Linked DNA regions of Homo sapiens. The protein of the gene in region 2 purifies or fractionates together with the protein of the main gene of each other region. This does not show direct contact. Each region holds a gene or a part of one and is shown on either strand. Other genes may lie near its edges. The genes, in order: CLUH and COA8.

Region 1 (3,819 bases), on a different chromosome or scaffold from region 2:
GGAGCCGTAGATGACGCTCTGCTCCTGGTCCCGCTCCAGGATGCCGGGGATGATGGACTGGGCCGTGACCCGGTAGCCGCGGTAATCCACCACCACCGTGCCCAGCGTGTACAGCCCCTCCACGTCCACCGCGTTGTACGTGCGGACGCCATTCAGGTCGTTGGTGGGCGCCACGTAGGCCGCCACGTCCCCCCCGAAGTCCTTGTAGTGGTCTCGGACGTCGAAGCCCAGGCTGAAGAAGATGTTGTTCCAGATGAACATCTGCATCTTGGTCTCCTCGCTGGGGTTGATGGCCATCACGTTGCCGTCAATGACGGCCATGGCGCCCCTGGTGGCTGCCGCGGTGAAGTCGCTGTGCACCTGGCGGGGGTCGAGGAGGGCAGGGTTAGAGGCCGCGCCCACAAGAGCCTGCATCCACCTGGCCAAGCGCACGCACCTAGACCGCGGAGGCAACCGGGCCTGCCTTGGAAACCCAAGGACCCGGAGCCTCAGTTTCCTCATATGTAGAAAAGGGCAAGAAAACCATGTTTTGGCCGGGCGCGGTGGCTCACACCTGTAATCCCAGCACTTTGAGGGGCCGAGGCGGTCAGACCACTTGAGGTCACGAGTTCGAGACCAGCCTGACCAATATGGTGAAACCCCATCTCTAATAAAAATACAAAAAAAATCAGCCAGGCGAGGTGGCGCGCGCCTGTAGTCCCAGCCACCCGACAGGCTGAGGCAGGAGAATTGCTTGAACCCGGGAGGTGGAGGTTACAGTGAGCCGAAATCACACCACTGCACTCCAGCCTGGGGGACAGAGTGAGACTCCATTTCTAAAAAAGCGCAAACAAACCAAAACCCCCATGTTTTGAGAATACACTTGTGCTGAGGGAGACAGCAGGGCTTAGTGATTAACAAGCGTGCGCAGGTTTGGGATCCACCAGTTATGTGCCAGGTGAACTTGAACAGATAAAGGTATTGACCTTTACAAGTTGTCCAATATATTATAGGAAATAGTCTCTATAACGCACTTGGCACCATCTCTGGTGAAGTCGGTACCCGAGAAATGAGTTTTTGTTTCTACAATTATCATCTCTAGGCAGTATAACTATGGGAGGTTGGTTGTTTTCAGACAGGGTATCACGCTGTTGCCAAGGCTGGAATGCAGCGGCACGAGATCCGAGCTCACTGAAGCCTCGACTTCCCCTGGCTCAGGCCATCCTCCCACTCCAGCCTCCCGAGTAGCTGGGACTACAGGCACATGCCACCATGCCTGGCTAATCTTTTGTATTTTTTGCAGAGACGAGGTTTCACCATGTTTCGTAGGCTGGTTTCCAACTCCTGGGCTCAAGTGATCTGCCTGTCTCAGCCTCCCAAAGTGCTAGGATTACAGGCGTGAGCCACTGTGCCTGGCTGAGATTTCTTTTTTTTTTTTTTGAGACGTAGTCTTGTTCTGTCGCCCAGGCTGGAGTGCAGTGATGCAATTTCGGCTCACTGCAACCTCCGCCTATTGGGTTCAAGCAATTCTCCTGTCTCAGACTCCCGAGTAGCTGGGACTACAGGCATGCGCCACCACACCCAGCTAATTTTTGTATTTTTAGTGGAGATGGGGTTTCCCCATATTGGCCAGGCTGGTCTTGAACTCCTGACCTTGTGATCCGCCCGCCTCGGCCTCCCAAAGTGCTGGGATTACAGGCATGAGCTACTGAAGCCGGCCTGAGATTTTTTTTTTCTTAAGCAACTGCTTTTCCTCATTTCTCTTAGTAACCCAGCACTAATAACTTTTAAACCCCAGCAAACTAAAAGTGTTATGCAAATGAGCACCCGCCCTAGAAGGGCCATGGCCGGCCAGTGCTCGCCCAGGCAAAAGCCCCGCAGCAGTCACAGAGGGCGGGAAGCTGCACGGCCCTGGACACTCAGTCCCTATGGGAAGTAGGGCCCGCTCCTTCCAGGGACTCAAAGCCTCAGAGAGGCCAGAGAAAGGTACTGGGATGGTCTGCTGGGAGGCGGAAGGCTAGCAGACCCTGCGGGAGACGCTGACTGGCCTTCGGGGAACCTGACAGGGTTAGGGCTGCCCCTGCCTCCCTTGCTTTCCTCCTCTCCATGAGAAAACCCGTCAGCAGGTGGACAGCGGGCCTCAGACTGCCGGTCAGCAGAGGCTGCAGGCACCTTGAATATGGCCCTTTCTCGGAGCAGCCGCTCAGGCAGGTTCTTGCGAGGCAGCTCCCTCGTCGTCTGCAGCTCCTCATTCCAGTCTCGGGTCTGCAGAGAGATCAGGGAGGGAAAAACGAGCTCAGCCTGTGCCCTGTGACCTGCTCCCGGAAGTCGCTCCTTCTACCTTCCTGAGAAGAGCCCCAGACTCCCAAATGAAGTCAAGCATGGGGCCTCCAGGGAAGTGCACGGAACCAGCCCAGCACCCAGGAGGGCAGGGGTGCCCAGCGAGGGCAGGGCCAGGTTGCAGGCACCTGTCCAGGAATGTGCTCCTCATAGCCCAGCCTCGAGGTGTAGGCGTCCTCTGCACGCACGCAATCCATGGCATGCTCCGCCTGGGGGGCTGTCCAGCTGTACACCTGGAATGGGGTGGCGATCCTCTCGAACGGGTGGCGCTGGACCCTGTGGCAGGCAGGGGAGGGGGAGATGGGGCAGCCCACCAAGCTCAGAGCCCTTCCACGGGCCCCTTTTCTGAGGCCCCCGCCTGCTCCGGCATCTCCCACCCTGAGACACTGCCCTGGAGCCAGATGGAAGTGCACGGGCGCCTCTCCTGCGGCTGCTGTCTCGGCACTGGCCGACAGCTCCCTAGAGCGGGGACTCCAACACTGGGGGCCCAGGGCGGTTTCTTCAGACAGAAGCACTGGAGTGCAGGTGGGCCGGCTCACCCCATGCCCCCGTGTGCCATGAGACAAGGCGGGAGGGGACAAAGGCACTACCTTTTCTTCTGCAGCACAGCGAAGTTCTTCTTGAAGGTCGGGCTGATCTGGTTGAGCAGCTCCACTAGGGAATGGCTTAGGAAGCGGGGGCTGGCGGGCTTGGGGTTGAAGTGATAAGCTGTGGACCTGCAGGGAGAGGGCGGGCACTGAGCGGGGGCCCAGGTGTCTGCCCAGACCCAGGACGGCTGGCACGGCAGGGGGGTGTGGTGGGCTGGCAGGGACTCACTGATTCAGGTAAAAGCCCCGTGTGGACGCGGTGATGCTGACTTGCCGGTCCTCGGCTGTGATCACAAACAGGTACATGAGGTCCCCGTGCATCTTCCGGTTCCCCGGGGGCGGGTTCCATCCGCTCATGGTGAGTACTTTCAGGCACTGCAAGGGCTTCGGGAGCGGCCGAGTCTGAGGGGCCAGGCCTCTGGTGTGGGGCCTCCACCCCGCCAGGGACCCTCTTCCTCCCTCCCCCAGGATCCTACCTTCCAGTCACGGTTTTGGGGCTGCAGGGGACACAGTGGCCGCTCCCGGCTCCCTGGCAGGATGTACTCGGGTGGTGTGCAGTCGATGGGGTCCATCTCCAAGCCCTTCTTCCGCTTCCCGCTGTCTGAGGGACCCGAGGCTGGTGGTCAGCACAGGGCCACCCAGGGCCAGCTGTCTCCCTACCTCCTGATGGCCGTGGTCCGGGTGCCTCAGGCCCAGGCCCCTCGGCCCCTTCTCCAGCCCCCCACCTCCGTGCTCCCCGCCCTTTGGCCCAATCCCCGGCCCCAGTGCCTCCCGCACCTCCCAGGTCGCCGTCGGTGAAGACACTCAGGAAGGACAAGGAGTTGCAGTCAACCCCGTTGAAGGCATCGGATGGGTCCAGGCTCTTGAGCAGGTCTCGGACATGGCGCACGTGGATGCGGGCCTCACGCACCGT
Region 2 (2,537 bases):
TTTTTGCTAAAAGATCCAAGAGAGCCCTTGGAAACCCCAGGCCTGCCGAGCTGGCAGCATTTTAGGGATGTGATGGGCCACGACCACTCTGGAGGCTCTGCATGGCAGGACAGAAAGTTCCTCTCCACCTGCAAACCACCTTTACACCTCCACCTACTTAAGCAATGCTGTCATGAGGAGCAGTGCCCAAAGTAAATAAGCGCTTCCAGGAGAAGAAAACCGGTAGCCCATGGGGATTACAGTTCTTCAAGGAAAAGCCATATTCCATTTCACTAATACAGACGACCTGATTCTATGACATGTAAAAGCAAGCTACACTTCTGCTGTTGCCACAGGGAAGGCAGGGGCAGGAGGTGGTGGTGGGGGCCAGGCTCCTCTAAGGCCTGATCTTGGGTAAGGCTGGTCCTCTTCACCCGAGTGCCACAGAGAAAACATGAAGCCCATCAGAGACTGTGCCCCGTGCAAACAAGCTACGTGTCCAAAGACCAGGGAAAGATTATACTCGCTTGTTTGAATGACTTAACTAATTCAGAGTAATACATGACAACCTTAGAAATGGAATCCAGATATTTCAGGACTAATCTTTAGGTCAGACTGTCCCTCACTGAGTCCATCCAGCCTTTGACTGTATCTATATTCTCTTTTTTTATTAGGGTCTCACTCTGTAGCCCAGGCTGGAGTGCAGTAGCGGGATCTCGGCTCACTGCAACCTCCACCTCCTGGGCTCAAGGGATCCTCCTGCCTCAGCCTCCTGTAGCTGGGATTACAGGTGCACACTACCACACCAAGCTAATTTTTGTATTTTTTGTAGAGACAGGGTTTTGTCATGTTGTCCAGGCTGGTCTCAAACTCCTGGGCTCAAGCAATCCATCTGCCTTGGCCTCCCAAAGTGCTGGGAGTACAGGTGTGAGCTACCGTGCCTGGCCCATGTCGACATTCTTGAAGTCTGGCTTCACCTGCCCATCAGGCTTTGTAACTCTGGAACTGTTTTATATATATATATATATTTTTTTAATTACTTACTTATTTATTTATTTATTGAGACAGGGTCTTACTCTGTCTGCCATCCAGGCTGGAATGCAGTGGCCGGATCTCGGCTCACTGTAGCCTTAACCTCCCAGGCTCAAGTGGTCCTCCTAGCTCAAGCCTTTCACTATGTTGCCCAGACTGGTCTTGAACTCCTGGACTCAAGTGATCTACCCACCTTGGCCTCCCAAAGTCATGGGATTCCAGGTGCGAGCCACCGTATCCAGCCTACAAATATTTTAAAGCAAATCTCAGATATCATGTCCTATTAATTTCACCTGTAAATACAGGTCATTATTATCTGTAACCAGCTAAAACCCGTTTTTTTTTTTTTTTTTTTTTTTTGAGATGGAGTTTTGTTCTCCTTGCCCAGACTGGAGTGCAATGGCACGATCTCAGCTCACCGCAACCTCCACCTTCCACGTTCAAGCGATTCTCCTGACTGAGCCTCCGGAGCAGCTGGCTAATTTTGTATTTTTAGTAGAGACAGGGTTTCTCCATGTTGGTCAGGCTGGTCTTGAACTCCTGACCTCAGGTGATCTGCCCACCTTGGCCTCCTAAAGTGCTGGGATTACAGGTGTGAACCACCACACCCGACCTAAAAAAATTGGTATCTTTTTAAGCCACTGCAGTCACTTAAAAAATAAAGTTGATAGACGAGGCGCAGTGGCTCATGCCTGTAATCCCAGCACTTTGGGAGGCCAAGGCAGGCGGATCACGAGGTCAGGAGATTGAGACCATCCTGCCTAACACGGTGAAACCCTGTCTCTACTAAAAATACAAAAAATTAGCCAGGCGTGCTGGCGGGTGCCTGTAGTCCCAGCTACTCGGGAGGCTGAGGCAGGAGAATGGCGTGAACCCAGGAGGCGGAGCTTGCAGTGAGCCAAGATGGCGCCACTGCACTCCAGCCTGGGCGAGAGAGCGAAACTCCGTCTCAAAAAAAAAAAAAAAAAGAAAAAAAGAAAAAAAAAAGTTGATAAAGTCTTGCAACTTCTACCTCTGATATAAACATGAATGTTGTTAAATTCAGGTAAGAAAACACTCCTACCTAATCTGGATGTGCTATTCAAATTTTCAGGAAAAGAGTAAACACCTACCTGTTATAATACATGTGCTTCTGAAAATTTTTACTTAAAAATTCCTTGTAGAAGTCCGCCATTTCTTCTGCATTCAATGTTGCTTTCTGACCTGAAAGGTAATTTCAGCTTAAACATTAAGACTTAAGGAGAAAGGATAAACAAAAAACTATTAGAGCTAATAAATGAGTTCAGCAAGCTTGCAGGATATATACAAGACCAATATACAAACATCAATTGTATTTCTATACACTAGCAATGAACAGTCTGAAATGAAATCAAGAAAACAATTCTACTTATGATAGCATCAAAAATAATAAAAGACTTAGGAATAAATTTGAGAGGAGACGTGTAAGATGTGTACACTGAAAAATACAAAATAGGCTAGGTGCAGTGGGTCACGCCTATAATCCCAGCACTTTGGGAGGCCAAGGT

The links.
Region 1: the proteins of COA8 (region 2) and CLUH purify together in Homo sapiens (affinity purification with mass spectrometry; 3 studies listed by BioGRID and IntAct, with this or other methods). This does not show direct contact.

Annotation. Positions count from the first base shown.
Region 1 is NC_000017.11:2,698,231-2,702,049, forward strand, and holds part of CLUH (clustered mitochondria protein homolog), read right to left. Parts: coding exon 3,684-3,819; intron 3,508-3,683; coding exon 3,383-3,507; intron 3,291-3,382; coding exon 3,136-3,290; intron 3,036-3,135; coding exon 2,910-3,035; intron 2,596-2,909; coding exon 2,448-2,595; intron 2,245-2,447; coding exon 2,152-2,244; intron 361-2,151; coding exon 1-360. UniProt on the Homo sapiens protein: mRNA-binding protein involved in proper cytoplasmic distribution of mitochondria.
Region 2 is NC_000014.9:103,586,951-103,589,487, reverse strand, and holds part of COA8 (cytochrome c oxidase assembly factor 8), read right to left. Parts: intron 2,215-2,537; coding exon 2,124-2,214; intron 1-2,123. UniProt on the Homo sapiens protein: Required for cytochrome c complex (COX) IV assembly and function Protects COX assembly from oxidation-induced degradation, COX being the terminal component of the mitochondrial respiratory chain.